2 linked regions of the Homo sapiens genome follow. The protein of the gene in region 1 purifies or fractionates together with the protein of each later gene. This does not show direct contact. Each region holds a gene or a part of one and is shown on either strand. Other genes may lie near its edges.

Region 1 (7,948 bases):
ACTTGTTTTCAGTTCTCTTGGGTATATACCTTGGAGTGGAATTGCTTGATGTTAATATAAATCTGTGTTGCTGTTTTTGTTTGAGACAGGATCTCACTCTGTTGCTCAGACTGAGCAACAGACTAGACTGGACTCACTGCAGCCTTGAACTCCTTGGCTAAAGTGATCCTCCTGTCTCAGCGTCTTGAGTAGCTGGATCACAGGTGTGCCGCCATGCCTGGCTAATTTTTAAATTTTTAGTAGAGACAGGATCTTGCTGTGTTGCCCAGGCTGGTCTCAGACTCCTGGCCTCAAGTGATCCTCCTGCCTCAGCCTCCCAAAGTGCTGGGATTGCAGGCTGAGCCACTGTGTTTTCAGCCTATGTTTAACTTATTTTGAGGAACTGCCAAACTTTTCCACAGCAGCTGTACCATTTTACATTCCCACCAGCAGTGTATTAGAGTTCCCGTTTCTCCACATACTCAGCACTTGTTATTGTCTGTCTTTTTTATTATAGCCATCCTAGTAAGCATGAAGTGGTATTGAGTCTTGGTTTTGATTTGCGTTTTCCTGCTGACTTAATGATGTTGAGCATTTTGTGTCTACTGGCCTTTTGTATATCTTCTTTGGAGAAATGTCTGTTCAAATCATTTGCCCATTTTATAATTGGGTTGCCTTTTTATTGTTTAGTCTCTCTTATCTTGTCAGAATTATTTAAAATATCTTCCCCTAATTAATAACAATTAGATAGAGAATTTTTCTTGAATGTAAATAATTTGGTGATGTTAGAATAACAGAGTTTATATTTACAATATATAAAGTAAATGTACAGGCCACACAAACTTAATGATTATTTCTGAACAGCAGTAAAATAGCATACTCAGCTGTTTACCAAAAGAAATGTGCTTGTTTACTTTTTGTAATTATACTGCCTTGTTTTGGTAGGATTTAGGGACTATGCAGAAGTAGTGGGTTGGTAATGAGAGCTTTAAAAATTGCATTTTAAGGTAAAAGTTTTAGCAATTAACTCTAAGATAGAAGTAGTAAATAACATTCAAAACTAGAGTTCAAGCATTGACCCAGAATTTTCTGATATTTATTTTTAATAACTTAAAGAAGGGACTTGAAACTTACAAGAATTTTCTTGCTGTTTAAATATGACCAAACCAAGAAAAAATTAAGTAGTGAAAATACTTGCAACTTTATGGACTTACTGGATACTTCAGCATTATTTTTCACGTGCTTTGTTTGTTTGTTTGTATGAATTCTGAGGTGTATGTTGATACCTTTTCTCATATATAAGGATTTATGGGTTTTGTTTAGTGTAGGGTTTTTTGTTGTTCTCTCATTCTTAGTAAATATAGATAATCCAAGAATGACTTTTAAGTGCCTTTAGGTCCTGCCATTTGCTACAGTTATAAATGTTGCCCCTTGCTTAGCCCTAATCCTAGCCCCAGCTCTGCTATTGCTTAAAAACAACTCATTTTAGAACTGCTTAGTGAGGAGGGCGGTGGTGAAGCTTTCTTGCTGATTGGGAACTCAAATAATAGTTTAAATCTGTAGGGTATAATGTCTTAAACGTGTTAAATTCAAGTTTGTTTCTATTAGAATTAGAACTATATATGATTTCTGTGTTGGAGATTCATAAAAATGTCATATTTATTTTTAATAACAATAGGACCTAGATACAGAGGAAGGTGATAAGGAGGGAAAAAAAAACGCTCTATTTTATTTTATTTATTTATTTATTTTTGAGACAGAATCTCACTTTGTCGCCCAGGCTGAAGTGCAGTGGCTTGATCTCAGCTTACTGTAACCTCCACCTCCCCGGATCAAGTGATTCTCGTGCCTAAGCCTCCCGAGTAGTTGGGACTACAGGTGCATGCCACCACACCTGGTTGATTTTTGTATTTTTAGTAGAGACGAGATTTTACCATGTTGGCCAGGCTGGTCTCAAACTCCTGACCTCAAGTGATCCGCCCACCTCAGCCTCCCAAAGTGCTGGGATTACAGGTGTGACTTGAGAACAAAACCTTAGTAGCACCTATTTGTAAATAAATGTTTTCTTAAAATTGAAGGTCATCAAGGCCAAAGGCACCATGGCAGATTGTGACATATCTGAAGTAGGAAGAGTTTTAGGGTTCTTCTGGGGAGCCATTCTAGTCTGCTCAGCACATAGAAGGGAGCAAAGGTAATCAGGAAAAGAGTAATGGCACACTCTGGGTGTGAGAAAGTGAAAGGTCATCTGAATTCTCAGGTGATTGGATTATTTATTTCTTAGCGATGGAGGCATAGGTAGTTATAGGTAGTTCTGTATTAAACTCTACTTTGTATGGCCTGTGTAGGTAATTGTATAGCTGTATTTGGAAAAAATGCCATTTAAATCATATTTCAGCCGGGTATGGTGGCTCACGCCTATAATCCCAGCGCTTTGGGAGGCTGAGGCAGGCGGATCACTTGAGGTCAGGAGTTTGGTACCAACCTGGCCAACATGGCACAACCCCATCTCTACTAAAAATACAAAAATTAGCCAGGTATGGTGGTGCATGCCTGTAATCCCAACTACTTGGGAGGCTGAGGCGGAAGAATCACTTGAACCCAGGAGGCAGAGGTTGCAGTGAGCCAAGATGGTACCACTGCACTCCAGCCTGGGTGACAGAGTGAGATTCTGTCTCAAAAAAATAAATCATATTTGAAGTTTAGTAAAATTGGTCAGAAATTATATGACAGGAAAAAAAATCCAGTGTCCAACAGCTATTTATTATCTATCACAGTCACTCAAAGGATATCCCCCCTACCCTTGCCCAACATCTCTGTGCACTGAGAGCAGAAGTTCCCAGATCTGTCCCAGTTTTCAGATCTGTCTCTCTGAGTATCCCCTACAACCCAGATTCTGTGACAGTTAAATTGGACTCGGGCTTCCACTGACCCAGTTGATGGAAGAGACTGAGCATCTTTCCAACTCTAACCCAAACGTGACAATGCCGCGTATTCTTTCAGAAAGTGTCAGGAAAGAGCCCGAAGATCCCTGAGCTCCAGGGACATGGCAGGGAGGCTGCACAGAAGGGTTCCCAGGGGTGGAAAAGGGGAATCTTAAAAATAAATTTTGGAACCAAGTAATCAATTTTATAGCACACTCTAGTTCTAGCGCACATGGTTCCTCCACTTGTTAGTGAATGCCTGACTTGTTGCCCCTGAAGTGTAAAAAGATGTATATTTAAGGATTCCATTGTTCAGCAAGTTATTATGCATGCAGATGGCAGGCACTAAGTGCTTACTCTTTTTGAAGGTGATTGCCTCTCCCCGCGATCCCCCTACATTGCAGTGTTTTGTTTTAAACAGCTTTCTTGATGGAGCCTAATCTTATCACCAGCATTATAGAAATAAGCCAGAGTGAGAAGCCTGTACAGTGAGGTCTTGGGATTATACCATAGTCATAATGGTGTTTTAAATTGTTTTTATTTTTCAATTGAAAAAAGTACACTATTCTAAAGTAGTGAATTTTAGTGGAGCAAACTCTTCACCTGGAAGTGTTTTTTTCCTTACCAAAGTGAAAATTGGTGGTTCTAAGAAGGCTGGAATTTATTTGCACTGTCATCTTTTACTATGGTGGGGGATGATCAAATTTAACATTTCCAAGTTTCCAGGAGACAGGCAGCCTATCTTATAAATATTGTCATAGAAGACCTCTTAACCTCTTTGTTCTTTGGATTTCTGTATTTCTTAGAATTGTCATGCTTCCTTTCTGAGACCTAAATTATGCAGGGGTAACGTGATTACTTTGACACCAAGCTCAGGAAATATAAAACGGGTTAAGTATAAACCAAGCTAGGTTTAAATGAAGTTCATTACTGGCTACAGTATATTAAGGGAACATATTCGAAAAGTCTGTATTTGCCTTTGTTCTTGCTGCTGACTCTTCTGCTTCTTTTGGTGACCTTCCCACAGCACAAGAGTGGTTAGGTGTGAGGAGGCTAAGAATACCTTGCCAAGAGCTTCAAATAATGTTAAAACCAGTATTTTAGGTGAACCATGGTCCCAAGAACTCTATTTAAGTAATTCCTAGTTCGGTGTCCCAGGAGCATTTGGCTTTACTGCACCTATTTTGGCCACATGTCTTTGTTTAAAAGGAAAAATTATCTTAGGTTATAATACAGCTATTTTGGGAGTACCTTAAGTTTAACATTAGATTACTAGGATTCGAAAAAATGTACCCAGATGGTAGATGCTGATGAGAATTTGACACAAGAATTCATTTGAAATTGAAGCTTTTGTAGTATTAGTCAGAAAAATTTATTGACATCTGGTTTTGAACAGCATAGTGAGTGGAGATTGAGATGATCAGTTAAAATTTAATGGATTGTGGCCGGGCACAATGGCTCACGCCTGTAATTCCAGCACTTTGGGAGGCTAAGGCAGGCATATCACCTGAGGTCGGGAGTTTGAGACGAGCCTGGCCCACGTCTACTAAAAATACAAAAATTAGCCAGGTCTGGTGGCATACGCCTGTAGTCCCAGCTACTTGGAGTCTGAGGCAACAGAATTGCTTGAACCTGGGAGGTGGAGGTTTCAGTGAGCCGAGATCCCACCATTGCTCTCCAGCCTGGGCAACAAAAGCGAAACTACATCTCAAAAAAAAAAAAAAAAAAAGAAAGAAAGAAAATTTAATGGATTATGGAGCTCTACTTCACATTAGTACACCTCGGTCTCTCTGTTTTTCTGTCTCAATTCAAGATAGAGTTCTTTGTAGCGGTATGGTTTAGAGGTGGTATGTATTTTACAAGTATGTCAGTTGGCTCTGTATATCCTGATGATACCGAAGCCAGGACCAGACCCCTACGTCAGTTATATCACTAAATATTCTGTTATTAATTTTCAGATTGGCTCCTAGTCCCAGCCAACTCATGTTTTAAATTAATATAGTTCATTGTCACACTGGACTGGAAAAACCAAATGAAATGTCTTTATTCTATGAAGATGACTTGTGTAGACTATACAGACTAGCAACAGCAGACACTTTCAGTGCGAGTTATTTTAAAAAATTGAAGATTTGACTGGCAGAAAAGTTGCTGAGATAGGGAAAAGGGATATCTATTGACAGATATATGTAGAATTAGGGAGAATTTTATGTTTTCATAAGTGTCTCAATTATTTAAGATTTAATTTGGTGTGCATGTGGAATATAATGGTAACATGGTTTGTCTGTGATTTGTCTTTTGTCTTAACAGATTATTTTTCTAACTTTAAAAAAGTATACATCACTTGAGGCCAGGAGTTTTAAACCAGTCTGGGCAACACAGGAAGACCCCATCTCTACAAAACATAAATTTTAAAAAAAGTTAGCCAGGGTCACAGTGTGCCATAATTGTGCCACTGCACTCCTGCCTGGACAACAAGAGTGAGATCCTGTCTCTCCAAAAAAAAAAAAGTATGCAAGTGATAAATATTCACTACAAAATATTTGAACATGCAGATACACAACAAAAAGGAAAAATTCCCCTGTACTCCTATTACCTAGAAATAACAGTGTTGAACTGTAAATGTCTCATTCTAGGCCTCCTTTCCATTATATGTCTGCCTTTTTAAAAAGGATTATATGATGCCTATTGTTTGGCAAGTTTAGCTTTTTTCATGTAATAATAGTACACTGTAAATATCTATTTGAGTAATGAAATTTAATTTTTTTTTTTTTAAAGACATGGTCTCTCTCATGCCCCAGGCTGGAGGGCAGTGGCACAATCTTAGCTCGCTGCAGCCACGACCTCCTGGGTTCAAGCCATCCTGCTGCCTCAGCCTCCTGAGTAGCTAGAACCACAGGTGCATGCCACCACTCCCGGGTAATTTTTGTATTTTTTGTAGAGACAGGGTTTGTTTTGCCATGTTGCCCAGGCTAGTCTTGAACTCCTAAACTCTCCTAATCTCAAGCGATCCCACCCACCTAGGCCTCCCAGAGTGCTAGGATTACAGGTGTGAGCCACCATGCCTGGCTGAAATTTAATGTATATTTTTTTTGACACAGAGTTTCACTCTGTTGCCCAGGCTGGAGTGCAGTGGCACCATCTCAGCTCACTGCAACCTCCGCCTCCCGGGTTAAAACGATTCTTGTGCCTCAGCCTCCTGAGCAGCTGGGACTATAGGAGTGTGCCACCATGCCTGGCTAATTTTTGTATTTTTAGTAGAGATTGGGTTTTGCCATGTTGGCCAGGATGGCAAAATTTAATTTTTAATGGCCGTTTAGTAGTCCTTTGTGTGATGTACTATAATTTATTTGTCTCCTATGATTGGAATTTAGGTTGTTTCTAATTTTTGCTGACACAACACTTATATGTACCCATTTTGCCTCTTTGAATATTTCCATAGAATAACTTCCTGGGAGTAGAATACTTTTCTTAAAGGATTTGTGCATTTCAAGGCTTTCAAAATACGTTGCCAAATAGCTTTCGAGAAAGGCTATTTATTTCAGTTTTTGGGTTCTTATCTTTCTAATTGGCTTTATGCTTACATTAAAATATGAAATTTTTATTTAGTTGCAGAATGAAGAAGAGTCTGGAGAACCTGAACAGGCTGCAGGTGATGCTCCTCCACCTTACAGCAGCATTTCTGCAGAGAGCGCAGGTAGGTAACAGGGCAAGGTGATCACGGAATCCTTAAAAACACTCTGTGCTTTGACATTACAGTTTAAAAAAAAAAAAGCTTCAGAAGCAGTTGGAAGAAAGGTTACAAAGCAAGTCTGGATTTTAAATAATTGAGAAGTGGATACATTTAAAAATCACCCCCAGTCTCTTACATTCATCTAAGAATGTCTTTTGGTTCAATTGTTATGTATGTACTCTTAAGGGAATGGCTGGGTTTTGTCTGCTAGAGTTAGTGGAACTCCTTTTATTTCAATTCAGCTAATCATCAAAAAATTGTGACTGTTAAAATTCTGCAGCATATTTTGACTACAAGGATGAGTCTGGGTTTCCAAAGCCCCCATCTTACAATGTAGCTACAACACTGCCCAGTTATGATGAAGCGGAGAGGACCAAGGCTGAAGCTACTATCCCTTTGGTTCCTGGGAGAGTGAGTATAATTTGCCATGTTACTTGATGGCTGCTCTGTGGGAATTAAGTTATTTTCATTATCCAATTTTGATTCGTTACTTATGATTGTATTGATTAGTGAAAGTAGAGCTAATTTTAAAAATCAGGTACATTTGCTTTTGGGATAATAAACTCATCTCTTCTTAAAAATGATGAGGTAAATTACTAGTCAGACCTGCTCATTTTTCCTTCATCTCTCCTATTACCACTACTTTTTCAAGTCTCCTGGGATGGCTGAAGTATCTTGAAGCAGAAGCACACTAATGTTTCCTTGATTCTGCACACTTAATATTTTGCTGTTGGGTGGATAGCTGCTAGGGAGGTCTAGGAAGAGAATAAATATATGCAAATTTGTAGAATTAAACTCATAAGAGGGATCTTCACATTGATTTAGATGAACTCCGTTCTTCCAGCAGTCCAGATCATGTCATTTGTGGGGACATAGTGAGTTCAGATTCCATCTAGCCTGATGTTGATTCATGGAGGTGGAGATTGGGATGCCATATAAACCAGTGGAGATTATTGGGCACTCTTGGTTCTTGATGTCAGATATGTGAGTGCTGCATTTGTCATTTTGTAAATATTCATCCAGATTGAGGCTGATGAAGGTAGGGCATTGTGGGAGAATGGAAGCAGGATAAGTCCCCAGAAATGCGGGGACCATCAGGCCTCTAGGCTCTATTCTAGCAAGTAACTGGAGTGAGTGATGAGCAAGTACAGAAGCCTAGTCTGGGCAGTGTGATGGCATAGGCCCAGATGTTCCCCTCTTGGCTTTAAGATAGTAGACAGTTTGCAGACCACACCTACTGTGAGGAGCGAAGCTCCTAAAATCATTGCTTGGTAGAAATAGTTTATGAGCCCAATCTAGGATGATCCTAAATGGCGAT
Region 2 (7,668 bases), on another chromosome or scaffold:
TTAATGTTCAGGAGAAATAATCTCTAGCTTCTCGTCTGCCCCCCAAAATCACTGTGCACCAGTCAGAGTCTACAGTATGGGGCTGACCAAGCCTGGACCCTCTTTCTCAGCTTTTGTTTGGGAGTAGTCAACAAACAGAAAACAGAAACTGTGATGATGACAGACTTTGTCTTGTCATTTTGAATTCTGTATCAATCTTGATTTCTGATTACCTATGTAGTGTTTTTTTTGAGACGGAGTCTTGCACTGTCATCCAAGCTGGAGTGCAGTGGCACAGTCTTGGCTCACTGCCTCCACCTCCTGGGTTCAAGCGATTCTCCTGCCTCAGCCTCCTGAGTAGCTGGGATTACAGGTGCCTGCCACCACACCCAGCTAATTTTTTGTAATTTTAGTAGAGATGGGGTTTCACCATGTTGGCCAGGCTGGTCTCAAACTCCTGACCTCAAGTGATCCACCTGCCTCGGCCTCTCAAAGTACAGGGATTACAGGCGTGAGCTCCTGTGCCTGGCCTGCCTGTGTAGTTTTGATCACCATTTGTTTCCCGTCTATGGAACCTCTGACTCCTCTGTCTGCTTTGACTGAGGATTCTATTCTGGGTGTTCTCTCATGTCTGAAGCCTTCTTCAGAGCCTCTCCTCTTGTCATCATTTAAAGTACCCCAGCGTTTGTACATTATTACCATGCACACTGTAACTCAGTAAAGATTTTTGATGACCTGTGGGTGTAGAAGGATTATAGAGGAAGATCCTAGATAACATTGCTGCTAGTCTCTGCCCACATCACAGCATATGTCCAGTGTTTTCCCTCCAGCCTACCTCTTATAGATGATTGTGTATGATATGTAGGAGAGCTCTTATTTGGTCCTTGCTTCTGAAACAAAAGTTGCTGTTGAATTGCTTTGGGTTCTAGGTTGAAGTCTGTACAAATACCAGCAGTCCTCATGCTGGCCTCTTTCCTAAAGATAACTCGACACTGGCTGTGGACATCTACAAAGGGGTAAGCATGTTTGGATTTGTGATCTTTGTTCCTGAATCAGTATTTTTAGCATAGTATGTGGTCTTTTTTGTGACTTCACTTCAGATATGAGCATATCTCCTCTGGAGTGTCATTTATTTCAGAGTTCCAGACACCAGACAAGCATTTTGGATTAAATGGGAAGGAATAGAGGATCAGTTGAAAAGATATATAATACAGGCCGGGTGCGGTGGTTCACGCCTGTAATCCCAGCACTTTGGGAGGCTGAGGCGGGTGGATCACTTGAGCTCAGGAGTTCAAGACCAGCCTGACCAACATGGTGAAACCCTGTCTCTACTAAAAACAAAAATACAAAAATTAGCTGGATGTGGTGGTGGGCACCTGTAATCTCAGCTACTCAGGAGGCTGAGACACGAGAATCGCTTGAACCTGGAAGGCAGAGGTTGCAGTGAGCCGAGATTGGGCCACTGCACTCCAGCCTGGGCGACAGAATAAGACTCTGTCTTTAAAAAAAAAAGGAAAAAAAAGATGCAGTATACACCCCAGCTTTTTTTTTTTTTTTTTTTTTTTTTGGAGACAAGGTCTTGCTCTGTTGCCCAGGCTGGGGTACAGTGGCTCGATCATGGCTCACTGCAGCCTCCACCTACCTGGTCCAAGTGATTTTCCCATCTCAGTCTTTTGGGTAATGGGACTGCAGGCAAGCACCACCATGCTTGGCTATTTTTTTTTTCTTTTTGAGATGGAGTTTTGTTCTTGTTGCCCAGGCTGGAGTGCACTGGCGTGATCTTGGCTCACTGCAATCTCTGCCTTCCGGGTTCAAGTGCTTCTCCTGCCTCAGCCTCCCAAGTAGATAGGATTACAGGTGTGTACCACCACACCTGGCTAATTTTGTATTTTTAGTAGAGATGGGGGTCTCTCCATGTTGGTCAGGCTGGTCTCGAACTCCTGACCTCAGGTGATCCACCCCCCCCTCGGCCTCCCAAAGTGCTGGGATTACAGGTGTGAGCCACCATGCCTGGCCTTGTATTTTTTTTGTAGAGTCAGGGTATTTGCCATGTTGCCTAGGCTTGTCTCAAACTCCTGGGCTCAAGGGATTCTCCAACCCTGGCCTCCCAAAGTGCTGGGATTACAAGCGTGAGCCACCCTACCCAGCCCCAAGAAAGTGTTCTTAGTAAAGTGTTTTTACTGGAGTCTCTCAGTTCTTTTATGCTGGTTACATTGTGATCCTCCAACAGTAGAATATATAGTGTGTAGCATTTCACCAATTTATTTGATATTTCCCTGTACTTCTATTGCCATTTTCCAGAATAGTGTGTAAAGGAATATAATTTGGGGAAAGTGGTGTAGACCTCTTTTTTTTTTTTTTTTTTTTTAATATTTAAGATGGAGGTTTAGGAGCTTGGAGAAGAGAAAGGACTAGGCAGAGAAACGAAGGAGCATCCAGTAAAGTTTAGACTGAAAGCTTCTGGAATGAGGTCCAGACTTGAGCCTAGCTTCTGGCACAGTGCGCAGCACAGCACTTGGTGTTGGTGGTGCATAGCAAAGAAGGGAGAAATGCCACAGGGAACTGCTGTTTTGGATATTGTCTGAGCAGATTATTGCCACAATCATATCCTTCCTCTTGGCCTCTCACAGGGTGTTGTGCTGGGATGTTACTTTGGGCCTGCTGCACTCTACATTTGGGCAGTGGGGATCCTGGCTGCAGGACAGAGCTCCACCATGACAGGAACCTATTCTGGCCAGTTTGTCATGGAGGTACGTGCTGGTATAGGATAGAGGGAGATAACACAACCCTTTTGTTACTTCTTCTTCTTCTTCTTTTTTTTTTTTTTTTGAGATGGAGTCTCACTCGTCGCCCAAGTTGGAGTGTAATGGCATGATCTCGGCTCACTGCAACCTCCACCTCCCGGGTTCAAGTGATTCTCCTGACTCAGCCTCCCGAGTAGCTAGGATTACAGGCTCTGGCCACCATACTCGGCTAATTTTTTGTATTTTTAGTAGAGATGGCGTTTCACCATGTTGGCCAGGCAGGTCTTGAACTCCTGACCTCAAGTGATCTACCCGCCTTGGCCTCTCAAAGTGCTGGGATTACAGGCGTGAGCCACTGCGCCTGGCCCCTTTTGTCACTTCTTAATCCCATTCTTCTGAGGTCTCTCCTGAACCTCCCCAAAACTTTTTTTTGTTTCCTGTTGCAGACAGTCATCTGCTCCTATGTTTTCTTCCAGGGATTCCTGAACCTAAAGTGGTCACGCTTTGCCCGAGTGGTTCTGACTCGCTCTATTGCCATCATCCCCACTCTGCTTGTTGCTGTCTTCCAAGATGTAGAGCATCTAACAGGGATGAATGACTTTCTGAATGTTCTACAGAGCTTACAGGTGAGGAGGAAGCTGAGGAAACACATCCTAGTTATTCAGGTAGCATTATGTACTGCCCTTGGGTACCAAGCCTAGCTGAGTGCTGGGGGGATATTGAGAGGAAGACAGAGGCATGGTTGTGGTCTGCAGTAAATGTATATGAAATCCTTGGCATCTAAAAGGATTTTAGAAATGGTTGGTTTTTTAAACCTGTTGAATGGGAACTATGAACTTTACTTACATATGGGACACAAAATTGTAGTTCATTAATGCAAGCAAACATTAAATGAACATATAGGACACTGTGCTAGGTCCTGTGGAGGTTAAGAAGACAAGTCACATACAAAGGTTTGTATGCTAGGTTAATGACAGCTCTGCAGAATTCAGCATAATGCCCAAGCATGTTGGGATGATAGGAATAATTATTTCTCATGGAGTAGTTGAGGCAGCATTTATGTTTCCCTTTCATTAATTGTGCTGTTCTCTAGGGTGATACAAGGACCCATAGTAATCCCATCTGATCTTCTTTCTTTTCCAGCTTCCCTTTGCTCTCATACCCATCCTCACATTTACGAGCTTGCGGCCAGTAATGAGTGACTTTGCCAATGGACTGTGAGTGTACTCCTCTTCGTTCCCAAAGGGGATGCTGATATGGGGAAAGGGTATCTTCATGCAGTAGGCCAGTCAGACGTGAGACACAGAGGGAAGCGATATGCTTTGAGAGGTGATTGCTAGCTGCTTCCTCTTTGGCTTAGAGAATGGAAACTGTGAATATAGTAAAGGAAGAGAAAGCACGTCTTTCATATGAAGGGGAGAGAAAGTTCAGCTTTTACAGCATAACTCTTCAGCTTCAGCCACTGAAGTTTGAGGCACCTTAATTCTTTGTTAAATGATCTTAACAAAAAAGGCATAAGTTAGTACCTTTTATATATATCTTTAAAGGATATGAGGTATCTGAAGTGACTTGTTGCATTTTTGGGAACGTTAATAAAATGGCTCATTGCGTTTCTAGGCCTTGTTGCATCTCTAGGGACTTAAATATTAGGGATTATTTGTTGGTGTCTTTTCCCCCCTCTTTCTCCCTGTCTACCAGTATCTAACTTTGGGTGATTTAACTTAGACTTATGAAGAATCATTTTTTTTCAAATTAAGAACAATTTTTCCATTCATTTTGAACTGCCTCTAATTCCCATCCTGTTTCCTTTTCTGTCTGTGGCCAAGTTGGATTATTCCATCAGTGACTGTGCTGATTTCTTTTACAGAGGCTGGCGGATTGCAGGAGGAATCTTGGTCCTTATCATCTGTTCCATCAATATGTACTTTGTAGTGGTTTATGTCCGGGACCTAGGGCATGTGGCATTATATGTGGTGGCTGCTGTGGTCAGCGTGGCTTATCTGGGCTTTGTGTTCTACTTGGTAAGTCTAGCCTGGAAGAGCAGGGGCATAGGTATCAGGGATGGTTGAGGTGGGGTTCACTGACATTCAGAAATGAACAGACCCAGGCTGGGCACAGTGGCTCATGCCTATAATCCCAGTACTTTGGGAGGCTGAGGCGGGAGGATTGCTTGAATCCAGGAGTTAGAGACCAATCTGGGCAACATAGTAAGACTCCATCTCTACAAAAAAAGAGAAATGAACAGACCCAAAAGAGCACATAACAATCTACCTCCAGGTGATCGAGACAATGTATATGGAATTGTCAAATCAGCTGTTTACAAAATAATATTTCTAACCATAAAATTCACTTTGGTTACTAAGATTTGTCATTTTTCAATTTCTGTCACTTCTGTAGTTTCCATTCTTAGTAATTCCTAACAAGAGAGTATAGTATGTTTGAGGAACTAAAAGAAGGGTAGCAGTACAGAGAGTGGAGAACGGTACAAAACAGAGGTGGAGAATAGGGCATGCAGTGTGATTTAGAGATTCGGGGTGGGACACATGTGGCACACAGCCCCACTCAGCTCCATCACTTACTAGCTGTCCAAGGAAATAATTAAATAGTGATAGTCTCCCCTTGACTCTCTCATTCTAGAGTCATTTTTTAAAAATCATGGTTATAAAACTATAGCTACATGAAAAAGGTATGTAAAATTTATATTTCAATTATAAAAAATTTTTTAAGAAGTCTAGAATTATATAAAAATGGCAATATAGTTGTTGTAGGAAGCTAGGATTATAGATATATTCTTCTCTATTTTCCAAATCTTCTTTAGCATTGCTTATATTAATGAAAAACAGCCAAAATAACAACAGATCCATTTCCCTGTTCTATACAGGTTTCTTTGAAAAGACACAGGGGTTAGGGATAAGGAATAGTAGAATTTATACCATTTTTGCTGCAGAGAATGGCTACAGATGGAGGCTGGAAACCTGCTGTTAATCTCTAGAACACTTCCCCACACCAGTGTGCCACACATTAGATACTTTATTAAGAAAATCACTTCAGTAAATGTTGAAAAATTATTTCCTAGATCTCTTCTTTTTTTCTTCCCAATAAACTTTGTGCACACAAAGACTGTACTGACCCTATGATCTAGGAACTTAACTTCAAGGAAAACCAAGTAACTGAATGTGTCCTTGACAGGAATTGTTTTTAAAAATTCACTATAGAAGTTAGGGGGATCCTTTCAGAATGCAAATTGGATATGAAGATGCCAGTTTGTCCTCAGTCAGCCTAAGGCTAATGAGCTTGTTGAAGACCCATTATTATTATTATTTTTGAGACAGAGTTTTTCTCTATCGCCCAAGCTAGGGTATAGTGGCATGATCTTAGCTCACTGCAACCTCTGCCTCCTGGGTTCAAGTGATTCGCCTGCCTTAGCCTCCTGAGTAGTTGGGACTACAGCCATGTGCTAACCATGCCTGGCTAATTTTTGTATTTTTAGTAGAGATGGGGTTTTGCCATGTTGGCCAGGCTGGTCTCAAACTCTTGACCTCAGGTGATCCACCTGCCTCAGCCTCCTGAAGTGTTGGGATTACAGGCATGAGCCACCGTGTCTGGCTTGAAGACCCATTTTGAGAGGAGAGGGCTGATTCTAGAGTGGGTTACTGTTGTTTAACTTCAAAACAGGAACTTCATAGAGCAGCTTAGGAGACTACACCAATTGTATTAGTCTGTTAGTCATTCTTATCATGGGGAGGACTGAGGAAAAGTGGACTTCCGAGAACTTACAGTTGGGTAAAAGAAACAAACAACAGGCTGGACGAGGTGGCTCACGCTTGTAATTTCAGTGCTTTGGGAGGCCGAGCCAGGAGGATTGCTTGAGGTTAGGAGTTTCAGACCAGCTTGAGAAATATAGCAAGACACCTTGTCTCTACAAAAAAAAATAAATTAGCTGGGCATGGTGGTGTGCGTCTGTAATCCTGGCAACTCAGGAGGCTGAGGAGAGAGGATTGCTTGAGCCCAGGAATTCGAGGCTTCAGTGAGCTATGATTGCACCACTATACTCCAGCCTGAGCAATAGAGGGAGACCTTGTCTCTAAAATGTAAAATAATAATAAAGATTTTAAAAAAAAGGAAAACCACAGACACAAAGCAGTAAGAACAGAGAAATTCAATATTTAAAATAGTATGGACAAACTTTGTTGAGGAAGGCAGCTGATTTTTTGAAGGGGGAGTGGGGTTGAGAGAATGACTTGTGCAACCCTTGGTGGTAGAAGATGGGCACAGCTGGATGTTCAAGGAAGGGAGCAGGTTTGCATTTGAGAAGTGCTGTGTGAGCAGTCATGGCTCTTCAAAGAGCCTGGTGAGTGATGACCATATTTTGTCTTTCAGGGTTGGCAATGTTTGATTGCACTGGGCATGTCCTTCCTGGACTGTGGGCATACGGTAAGCATCTCTAAAGGCCTGCTGACAGAAGAAGCCACCCGTGGCTACGTTAAATAACACTGGATTAGTCTGTCTTCTGCAGGTAGCCATCAGAGCCAGTGTGTTTCTATGGTTTACTGTGTGAACATAGCCAAAAGTATGTGCCGTTGCACAGACTGTGTTTATGACTCAACCGTTGGTTGGAAAAGACTTTGTTTCATGTGTATTTGAAAGATGGAATTATTTTTTCCTTCCTGACCTAACCTTAGAACTGGATTAGGGTGGGATCTTTGAAAAGCTGACATTTGCTGCTATCATTCCAACACTAAATTCTTAAGTAGTTGCCCAAGGGCCAGCTCAGTTTATCCTTCGGAGAGACAAGGATATGCATGATTCTTAACCAGGCTATATGTTAAAAAAAAATTGGAAAATGCAATACATTTTTTATTATACAAACTACAGAATGAGTATGCAAGTTTTATTTATCAAAATGTAATGGATTTTTAAAGGCTGAGAAATTTTCCTTATACCT

The links. The genes of interacting proteins can lie anywhere in the genome.
Region 2: the proteins of NDFIP1 (region 1) and SLC11A2 purify together in Homo sapiens (affinity purification with western blotting; 2 studies listed by BioGRID and IntAct, with this or other methods). This does not show direct contact.

What each region holds. Positions count from the first base shown.
Region 1 is NC_000005.10:142,125,302-142,133,249, forward strand, and holds part of NDFIP1 (NEDD4 family-interacting protein 1), read left to right. Parts: intron 1-6,506; coding exon 6,507-6,594; intron 6,595-6,910; coding exon 6,911-7,041; intron 7,042-7,948. UniProt on the Homo sapiens protein: Activates HECT domain-containing E3 ubiquitin-protein ligases, including NEDD4 and ITCH, and consequently modulates the stability of their targets. As a result, controls many cellular processes.
Region 2 is NC_000012.12:50,987,871-50,995,538, reverse strand, and holds part of SLC11A2 (natural resistance-associated macrophage protein 2), read left to right. Parts: intron 1-908; coding exon 909-995; intron 996-2,609; coding exon 2,610-2,729; intron 2,730-3,199; coding exon 3,200-3,349; intron 3,350-3,866; coding exon 3,867-3,940; intron 3,941-4,590; coding exon 4,591-4,744; intron 4,745-7,103; coding exon 7,104-7,214; 3' UTR 7,215-7,668. UniProt on the Homo sapiens protein: Proton-coupled metal ion symporter operating with a proton to metal ion stoichiometry of 1:1. Selectively transports various divalent metal cations, in decreasing affinity: Cd(2+) > Fe(2+) > Co(2+), Mn(2+) >> Zn(2+), Ni(2+), VO(2+).